Regions from separate parts of the Homo sapiens genome. Here region 1 is linked to region 2. The links come from fine-mapping of genetic effects on gene expression. A gene starts in region 2. The other region holds a variant in brackets. All regions are shown on one strand. Distances are between the middles of the regions.

What was found. PIP is the estimated chance that this variant, and not a neighbour inherited with it, causes the effect. A credible set is the group of variants that fine-mapping cannot tell apart.
Region 1: its variant is the best candidate, but not a certain one, in a credible set for the expression of UTP20 in skeletal muscle (GTEx, PIP 0.76).

The regions. Positions count from the first base shown.
Region 1 is chr12:101,338,105-101,343,492 of GRCh38, forward strand. It overlaps UTP20 (UTP20 small subunit processome component), which reads left to right. Exons shown (of 62, transcript NM_014503.3): 30 at 1-173; 31 at 709-853; 32 at 2,419-2,506; 33 at 4,342-4,485; 34 at 4,683-4,733; 35 at 4,837-4,989. Among named protein-coding and RNA genes, the nearest start is that of UTP20, 61 kb to the left of the region's middle. The variant T/C (reference allele first, on the strand shown) is at 2,395.
Region 2 is chr12:101,277,511-101,282,898 of GRCh38, forward strand. It overlaps UTP20 (UTP20 small subunit processome component), which reads left to right and starts at 2,595. Exons shown (of 62, transcript NM_014503.3): 1 at 2,595-2,817; 2 at 3,606-3,686. The coding sequence starts at 2,773. RefSeq lists enhancers at 2,294-2,885, 2,619-2,668.

The sequences.
Region 1 (5,388 bases), 61 kb after region 2:
GACCAATGTTTTTGCAATTCTCTCAGCGAAGAATCTTTCTGATGCCACAGCCAGTATTGTAATGGACATAGTTGATGACCTTCTTAACCTTCCAGATTTCGAGCCTACAGAAACAGTTTTGAACTTGCTGGTAACTGGATGTGTATACCCTGGCATAGCAGAAAACATCGGTGGTATGTATGCTGACAAAGCAGATAATTCTTAGACTTCTGCTGTAGCAATTGTTTCCTTAGAAGAGAAAAAAAATCAGTATAATTTGACTCACTCGAGAGCATATGCTCAGAAGTTTCTTTTCCCTGGGAACTAATACTAATTTATATAAACTGAATTTTCTTTGTAGTTATAAGAATAGATTATTTACTCTCCAAGAAGTCTCAACTCTGCTGCAGGAAATTATGAAAATGATTTCTACTGTCATGTCTCTACATTCTTCTTACCATATTATCCCAAATAATTCCCTTACTATTACCAAAAAATGGTTTAAATAAAGCCTCAGGGGTCTCTTAAATAAGTTCTTGATTTAGCTAGTAATATAGCTATTTTGAATAAGAAGAAAGTTGTTTATTTAGAATTTAGAATTTATTTAGAATTGAAATTTAACTTAAATGTTCATAGTGGTTGAGTGCTTTTCTTATCATCATGAAGATTTTGTACAATTATGCCTTAAGAGAGTTTATTAAAATCAAATCAAATCACTATCTATTTCAGAGTCTATCACAATAGGAGGAAGATTAATTCTACCTCATGTACCTGCAATTCTTCAGTATCTCAGCAAAACCACAATAAGCGCAGAAAAGGTGAAAAAGAAAAAGAATAGAGCACAAGTCAGTAAAGAGCTTGGCATTCTTTCAAAGTAAGTGATATGTTGATACTTAAAAGATAACATTACCATCCTTGGTTTTAACTTTTTAAAAAATTATTATCTTGGCCAGGCGTGGTGGCTCACACCTGTAATCCCAGCACTTTGGGAGGCTGAGGTGGGTGGATCACCTGAGGTCAGGGGTTCAAGACCAGCCTGACCAACATGGCAAAACCCCGTCTCTACTAAAAATACAAAAGTTAGCTGGGCGTGGTGGTGGACACCTGTAATCTCAGCTACTCAGGAGACTGAGGCAGGAGAATGGCTTGAACCCAGGAGGCGGAGGTTGCAGTGAGCCGAGATCGCGCCACTGCACTCCAGCCTGGGCGACAGAGTGAGACTCCATCTCAAAAATAAAATAAAATAAAATAAATTTAAAAAAAATTATTATCTTGTTTTTCAGGTGTTGGAATCTGGCAATAAGAAGCTAAAAAGTTTTTTAGTATTTTTGAATGCCCTTTACTTTTAAGTTAATGCAGAATTCCCTTTCTCTGCTGGATTACTTACTAGAAACCGTTCATAGCATCTGCCTTTATTTAATAAAATTAAAGGGGACAGATTTTTCAAAATCCTAAAGTAGACTAATAGATTTGTTTGTTTAGCATTTGTGTATTTTGAGTTTTGTGGAATTGCAGTTTTTTACTCTTTAGTGTAATGATAAAAATAATTAACTTAAAAGAGCAGATTGTTCGGTTTTTTTGAGTCAAGATCTCACAAGGGTTGTTAAAGAGTCTGTTTGGCAGTAGACCTAGGAGTGTATTGTGATTTCGGTAAAGGGAAAGGTTAATAAACCTGAGTGCAAGAAACAATTCTATCTTAATTTTAAGTTGACCATTACAAGGCTTAGTTGTTGAAAATGTATTTTTTCTGTTACTTACAACAGTGTCAACAAAAAGTGATATGTTCGAATCCTCTAGAAACTTCTTTGCAATGCATTTTAAAATACTATTGTATTTCTAAGTTATGCAGAGTGGGAAATCATACTAATACACTCATTAAATTTCATCCCAGGCTATGTAGTAGTAGAAGGATGATGAGAGGAGATTAGGAACCAGAAAGACCAGAGTTTGAAAGACCTGCTGTACTTCTTCTAGCTGTGAGACATCAGTTTCTCTGAGTCTCAGTTTTTTTCAGGGCAAAATCAGGCTGATGATTCCTATATTGCAGGGCTATCATGGGTGTTAAATTGAAATACTGTACATAAACCCTTAAGTCTTGGCACTTAAAAATGTTATTTCTTTTCAAAATAAAACAATTACTAATTACCAGACTGGAGTTCACTCTAACCCACCTATTCACCTGTTCACTCTAACCCACACAATCAGATATTGCAAAAGAAATAGAATAGTGGCCATGAGCTTGATGTTGGAGAGGAGTAAGAGTGAGCACAGCTAAGTAACTGAGGTAAACTTTTTATACATGCACACATACTTAAAAGCTAGCTGTGTATTGGAATGCTAAAACTGTGTCTTTAGTCATTGTTTTTCTACAAAAAGTTTAACTTCTTAGAGAAATATCCTTGTATATGTTCCTTA[T/C]ATATCCGTTTTTTCCTTCTTTAGGATCAGCAAGTTTATGAAAGACAAAGAACAAAGTTCTGTACTCATTACGCTTCTCCTTCCATTCCTCCACCGTGGCAATATTGCTGAGGTACAAACTCATAGGACACTTAACTTTGTCTCTAGAGTGGCACTTTATCACTAGGTTTAATTGCGAGCAGCAATTTTACTGGCTAGATTTTGTGATGCATTTGTCGCAAGGAACTTAAAATACTTTATATAGAAATTAAAAAAATTAGAAATAGAGGGAAAAGACTGGGACAGACACTAGGAATGGGGGCAGGCAAGAAAGCGGAGACATCGTCATCTACAACAACAAAGTACTAGCCCCTTTATTTCCCTTGTTTAGCTTCTGATTCATTTCAGGGGTTTTTCTTTCTCTAACAAGCCTGGAACCCAAGAAGTGCATTGTGTAATCTTTTTTTTTTTTTTTTTTTTTTTTTTTTTTTTTTTTTTTTTTTTTTTTTTTTTTTGAGATGGAGTTTCACTCTTGTCCTCCAGGCTGGTGTGCAATGGCAAAATCTCGGCTCACTGCAACCTCCACCTCCTGGGTTCAAGCAATTCTCCTGCCTCAGCCTCCCAAGTAGCTGGGAATACAGGTGCCTGCCACCACGCCCAGCTAGTTTTTTTGTATTTTCAATAGGGATGGGGTTTCACCGTGTTGGCCAGGCTGGCCTGGAACTCCTGACCTCGGGTGATCTGCCCGCCTCGGCCTCCCAAAGTGCTGGGATTACAGGCATGAGCCACCGCGCCCGGCCTCATTATATAATCTTAATTGTAGATCACAGTGGCAAAACAGAATAAAATCAGACTTTTAATATTCAGACACAGCTAAGTGTTCCTGATATGATTTTCAAACCCTAGTTCAATCTTAATTAGGAGTCCTCCAGTGGCTCAAGCTCATTTGTCAGACCTCAGTAGTGATACTAAACATTTCTCCCCACATAGTTGTTCAATTTAGAAGACCACAGATCTGTAGACAACCAGAAATGTATACAGTTGGCCCTCTGTATTCACATTTCCACATATGTGGATTCAACCAATCATAGATGAAAATATTTGGAGAAATAACAATATAATTATAAAAATGATAGAAACTTTAACTGGCAGGGCACAGTGGCTCACGCCTGTAATCCCCGCACTTTGGGAGGCCAAGGCAGGCAGATCACGAGGTCAGGAGTTCAAGACCAGGGTGGCCAACATAGTGAAACCCTGTTTCTACTAAAAATAAAAAAATTAGCCTGGCATGGTGGCGTATGTCTGTACTCCCAGCTACTTAGGAGGCTGAGGCAGGAGAATCGCTTGAACCCAGGAGGTGGAGGTTGTGGTGAGCTGAGATCATGCCACTGCACTCCAGACTGGACAACAGAGTGAGACTCCATCTCAAAAAATATATAAATAAAATAAAAATAATACAAATTTTAAAAATGCAGTATAACAACTATTTACGTAGCATTTACATTGTATTGGGTATTATAAGTAATCTAGAGGTGACTTAAAATATACAGAAGGGTGTGTGTGGGTGATATGCAAATACCATGCCTTTTTATATAAGGGACTTAAACATCCTTGGAGTTTGGTATTTTTTGGGGTCCTGGAACCAGTCCCCCTTGGATACCGAGGGACGACTGTACTTCAGCAAGCTCATTTTCTTGTATCTTTTTTGATTAGACAATAGAAGAAATTATGTTTCAAAACTACATATATTGCTTATTAGAATTAAAGGAAGAAACTGGTTCACACATTCTTATGGGTTTTACATTAAATTAAAATGCTAAAAACTTTTAAAAGACGATAAAATAATTTTTCCAATTACTACTTTTACATCTTATTCACAATTGTTTTCTATGCTATAATATATTAAAGTATAAGTTGACCAGTTTATAACTTACTGAAATATGATTTCTCTGATTATTTCTTCTCAAGGATACAGAGGTTGATATTCTGGTGACAGTACAAAACTTGTTAAAGCATTGTGTGGACCCTACAAGCTTCCTCAAGCCTATAGCAAAACTTTTCTCAGTTATTAAGAACAAATTGTCAAGAAAATTGCTTTGTACGGTTTTTGAGGTCTGTACTATTCATTTTTACTCCAAATCACCCTTTTAAAAAAATGTAATTATGACTTGTAAACCATATTAGGGGCTTTCTTCATGCCAGGGTGATGTTTTTATATGAATTTGAATGGGGACAGGTAGCTGAGGGGAGGAGGGCAGAAAAGTTAAAGTTTTATTCACTGATAAATACACTGTTTTCTTTCCTTTCAGACTCTTTCTGATTTTGAGAGTGGGTTAAAATATATTACTGATGTTGTCAAGGTAAGAAAGAAGGGTTTCTCTTTGGCTTCAAAAGTATTATCATTTTTGTTTACTGAAGATTTATATGCCTTCTTTTATATAACTTCAATGGCATTTCTTATAGCTTAACGCCTTCGATCAAAGACATCTTGATGATATCAACTTCGACGTTCGCTTTGAGACTTTCCAGACCATCACCTCTTACATTAAAGAAATGCAAATTGTGGATGTTAACTACCTAATTCCAGTTATGCATAATTGTTTCTATAATCTAGAGGTAGGTTATTATAGCAAAATTTTTAAATTATTTTTTATTGTTTTGGTAATACGGCTGCCTAATACAGTGACCTGATCTTTAAATTTGTTTTTTGAGGGGGGACAAAGGTTTTTAGGATTAAATTTCTTTTAGATGAAGAATCTTATGTCTGGCAAAACAGTTATTCTCATGATTTAAAAGGCAAATATTGTGAATAAAATAATACATATGAAAGCATTTTGAAAAAAATCAAGAAGTTATGTATTAGAATAGGGAAATCCATAGAGATGAAGTACATTAGGTCACTAAAGGCTGCAGAAAGGGAGGAATGGGGCGTGATTTCTAATGGGTATAGGGTTTCTTTTGGGAGTGATGAAAATGTTCTGGAATTAGTGGTGATGATCACACAACCTCGTGAAT
Region 2 (5,388 bases):
GAGAATAAATGGTCATTTATTTATCCACTTAGCAAACATTTATTTCATGCTCTATGCACCAACACAGTATCTTGAAAGACTGGTATTATTGTCATCTCTATTTTATAGATGAGGAAATTGGGTCTCAGAAAGGTTAAGTAATTTCTGAGCTTGCGCAATTATGGTGTCTGGCACATTCTAAGCATCTTTTATCCATTAGCTTATTTACTCTGCATAATCACCACCCGTGAGGTAGCTACTTTTGTTAGCTTCATTTACATATACGGAAATGTCATTCTGAAAGGGTAACTGACCCTACTAATAAATGGCAGAACCAGGATTACCTCCAGACAACCTGGTTCCAGCATCTATGCTCTCAACCACCATGTTCTATTGACATATTGTTAAGCCAGTCAGAGTCAAGTCAGTGTGTGAGGGTCATGTAATGAAGAACAATGCAAACAATAAATGGTCAATATAACTTGTGTCAGTTCTTTCAGTTTCTTTGATTTTTCTCTTCACTCCTTATTGTCCAGTTAACTCCATTACCAAAAATAAATTGCAGAGAAGGAAAATGGCACAATGATGTGGGGGTGATTTTGGCAACAGGTTGGGAAAATATTGCTTTGAGTGGGGGCTTCTACCCTCAGTTAACTGCAGGCTTCTAACTCTCTGAAACGTGCACATTTTAGTGTGGATGAGCTTCTTTGCATCTTTCTGGGAGAAGTTCTACAGCTTTCTTAGATTTCCCTGTGACCCATAAAAGGCTTTTAAAAAAAAAAGACCAATTATTAGCCTACTGAAAGCCAATGGAACATTAGGCACGTCAATATTTTATTATAAAAAAATCTATAAATGCTATGGAGGCATTAAAATATTTAGAACAACCCTGTGGTGACACAGAAAATGTTGATGTGATAATGCCAATAACAATTTGAAAGTGTTATGTTCACTTTCTCAACTCTGATTACCTCCTCAATCCATGCATATTTCACTTCCTTTCTTCCAACTAGACTGTACTTAGCAAGGTCACCAGTGACCTTCACCTTGTCAGATCCAGCAACCACTTCTCTATCCTCGAATTTGCAGTATAGTTGGCCACCAGCTCTGCTTCCATGCCATAACTAGTCTGTTTCTACCTTACTGGCTCTCTTTCCCAGTCGCAAATGCCTCACACTTGAGGTATTTAGGTGTATTTAAGTCACGTCTGCAGCCCAGACTGCTACAGTGAGCTCTGTACAACAATATATCCAATTGTCTACTTAACATCACTCCTTGACTAAAATGTAAGCATCTCAGACCAAGTATTTCCAGTCTGGGCATGGTGGCTCACCCCTGTAATCCCAGCACTTTGGGAGGCCAAGCCAAGAGGACTGCTTGAGTCCAGAAGTTTGATACCAGCCTGGGCAATATAGCAAGATCCCATCTCTACAAATAATAATAATAATAATAATAATAATAATAATAATAATAAAAGAGCTGGGTGTGGTGGTGCATGCCTGTAGCCCTAGCTACTTGGGAGGCTGAGGTGGGAGGCTCACTTTAGCCCAGGAATTGAAGGCTGTGAATATTTTCAAATAATTAATTAATACTATTATTGCCTTTCTCGTTTGGCTCCCAGAACAGTACCTGGTCCACAGAGGACTCTCAAGAAATAGTTGCTGAATGAATGAATGAATGTAAAATGGGGTAAATAATTATATTTTTAAATTATTTTTTAAAATTGTACATATATGTATATATAACTGTACAATTTAACAACATGCTATGTGTAGACATTAAAGTGATGGGAAAAACACCAAACATTAACAGCGGTTGTGCATGAAATTAAAAGATTTTTCTTAAAACTCCTTCTCTATTTTTCAATTTTATTTACAGCGTAGTGGTTAAGAATACCAAAATTTAGAGTCTGAGTGAAGACTGCCAGTTACCAGCTGCACAACCTTGGTTTCCTCTTGTGTCAAATTGGCTTAAAAATATACACAGTACCGGCCAGGCGCGGTGGCTCACACCTGTAATCCCAGCACTTTGGAAAACCGAGGCGGGCGGATTGCCTGAGCTCAGGAGTTCGCGACCAGCCTGGGCAACAAGGTGAAACCCCGTCTCTACTAAAATACAAAAGAATTAGCCGGGCGTGGCGGCGGGTGCCTGTAGTCCCAGCTACTTTGGACGCTGAGGCAGGAGAACTGCTTGAACCCGGGAGGCGGAGATTGTAGTGAGCCGAGATCGCGCCACTGCCCTCCAGCCTGGGAGACAGAGTGAGACTCCGTCTCAAAAAAAAAAAAAAAAAAGTATATATCTATATATAGATATATAGATAGACGCAGTACCTCCTTTGTATTAACATCCCTAATAAGCTTTACTGTGAAATTATGGATGAAAGGATCTTTGCACGATGCAGGTACGTAGTGAGGGACAGTAATGTTAGTTGATAACGATTACAGGTATGTTTTATTTTATAATGAAAATACATTTGTCTTCTAAACCTTTACCGAAGGGAGTGAAAAGAACACCTCACCCAAACGCCCGCCCTTATGTGCGCAGCCCCGCCTCCTGTAGGCCCCACCCCACCAAAGGGTGCGCCTGCGCCGTTCTTTTTTCCGTCCACGTGACCCACTCAGGCTCCTCCTTGTCTCCAACATGGCGGCGCCCAGGGGCTCAAGCCGCACGTGAGAAAGTCTGGGCATCTGGGAATCGGAGAGTATAGCCTGTGAGCCGCTTTCCCCTCCTTACTGTCGGTTGCATCCCTTCGACACTCCCGAGGCCGTCGCGGGCCACTGGCCCTCTGCAGCCATGAAGACAAAGCCCGTTTCCCACAAGACCGAGAACACCTACCGGGTGAGCGCGGGAGCTTAGGCAGGGAGCCGCGGGTCTCCGCTGCCTCAGTCGTGAGACAGGCTCTGAGCGAGACTCCAGGGGCCTCAGACTTCTGGGCCGAGTGTGTCACTTTCCTGGAGGCTCCGGCGAAAGAGGGAGACACTGGATGTAGTAAACATGGGTTGGAGGAGGAAAGAAGTGTGGACAGCAAGTTTCACCCATGTTTTATGGGGTCTGGCCAGTCCTGGGAATTTCCTGTAGTCCAGAATTAAATTCACTATTCCAGGAGATTGCTTAGGACCAATTCTCCCCTGCTCTTTTATCTTTAAAGACCGAATTGGGCGAGTCGGCTGGCGGTGAGTGATTCCCAGCTAAGGGCAAATATACAGCGCTTTCTCTGTTTGCCCCTTGATAGATTGTTTCCAGGTCTTCCTTAGGATACAATCATAGGTCTGTATATGTTTAAAAACACTTTTATTGCAGCGACTTTGCTAGGTCCCCATGCTTATGGGAGGGTATGAAACCTAATAGATCTAGCGAGACTAATTGCCAGCATCCACCTAGGCTCACCAGTCTGGCAATGGAAATTTTATTTGAAATGACATAGCTGAGAGAAATTATGCAAACATAGAAGTATTCATTATCTTTGAACAGTGATGCAGTAAATTTGTTTACGGCCGTATGTTTTTCAGTTTATTTTTCCACTTATCCTTTGTGATTAGAGATGCCTACATGCAGCATTCAAATAGATATTAAAGATCTGATAAATTTTAATTAATTATGTATCTTAAATATACTTTCCCTTCCAGTTTCTTACATTTGCTGAACGACTGGGGAATGTTAATATTGATATTATTCACCGGATTGATAGAACTGCAAGCTATGAGGAGGTAAGAGAATGTGATACTAGTCAATCTTCAAGTGTTCATGGTGTTTTAGTTTCTTCTGTTAGTAGAAGTGAATTGTTTTTCAAGGTATTCCTTTTTGGACATGAAATGCTTTAGACCTGTGCTGTTTCATACAGTAGCCACATATGACAAATTGGATTTAAAGTAAATTAAAAATTTGGGTGCCCAAATGTGGCTAGTTGCTAACATATTGAATAAATATAGAATTGGAACATTTTCATCTTTGCAGAAAGTTCTGTTGGGTGAAGCTCTATTAGACAATTGACTTGACTTTCAGCTGTCTTTGTGATTCTAGCCTCTCCCTTTCCCTTATGCATTCCAAGCACTGCTGCAGATCCATATTCCTGAAGCTATAACTTTAAAGTGATTTTGAGGAAGCCCTTTTCCCGGGGCTTAATTTTCTCCTTTATAAAAATAAAGGGGCTAGACTACATAATATTTTCCAGTTTTAACCATACTCTGACTCTGTCATCCCTTTATTTTACTTTTATTTATTTATTCATTTTTTTGAGATGGAGTCTCGCTCCGTCTCCAGGTTGGAGTGCAGTGGCGTGATCTTGGCTCACTGCAATCTCCACCTCCCAGGTTTAAGCGATTCTCCTGCCTCAGCCTCCCGAGTAGCTGGGATTACAGGTACGTGCCACCACACCCAGCTAATTTTTGCATTTTTAGTAGAGACGGGGTTTTGACATGTTGGCCAGGATGGTCTCAATCTCCTGACCTCGTGATCTGCTCGCCTTGGCCTCCGAAAGTGCTGGGATTACAGGTGTGAGCCACCACGCCCGGCCTTGTCATCCTTTTATGCAGAAGTCTTTTTCTGCATCATGTCGTTATTCCTCCTAGCATTTTAAGGTCGTACGTAACATGCCTATACCTTGGCGATCCAATCTCAGTTCGTAATATTCTTCTTTACTATAATCAGACTCCACTCGCTGGGTCTTTGAATGCATTATCTCCACTGTGTAAATTCAATGTGTTAAATGATGTCGTCTAGGTGAGCACATTGTGCTTTGAGAACTCATAGTAAAGGGAACCTAACCTACATTCTTTAGGGGTGTCAAAAAAACGGTGATCTAGACGAGGTGACACCTGAATTTTGTTTATATAGGTTTTAGCATGGTAAAGAGGACAGGAAAGCCTGTTCCAGGCTGAGGGAGAAGCCTATATAAAGGAACAGAAGCTAGAGAATGCATGTCACATTCAAGAAACTGCAAAGCAGTCCAGTGTGGTTATAGGTGTGTATAGGGTGTTTTTTTTTTGTATTCATGGTGACTGGGATGGGGCAAGGGGGCAACTGGTGAGATAAAGCTGGAGAAATAGGCAAGGATCATAAAGGACTTCATATGTGAAGCTAAGTTGGGGTTTTATCCTGAAGCTGTAGGGACTTAGAGTTCTAGGACTGTAAGCAGGGGAATGAATGACATGATCAGGTTTAAATTTTCAATCTCTCTGGCTTTAGTGTGGAGAAAAGAGCAGGACTGCAGTTCTTCATCATGTCATGATTCCTCTGCTAGCCTTTTAAGGTCCTGTGTAACATGCCTTTAACTTGGAGATCCAATCTCAGTTGTCCAGTTGTGAGGATTTGACTGTTATCTAAGTAAGAAATGATTATGGTAGCAGCAATCAAGATAGAGAGAAGAGAAAGATTCCAGAGATGTTGAGGAAGTAGAATGAATGGATAGGA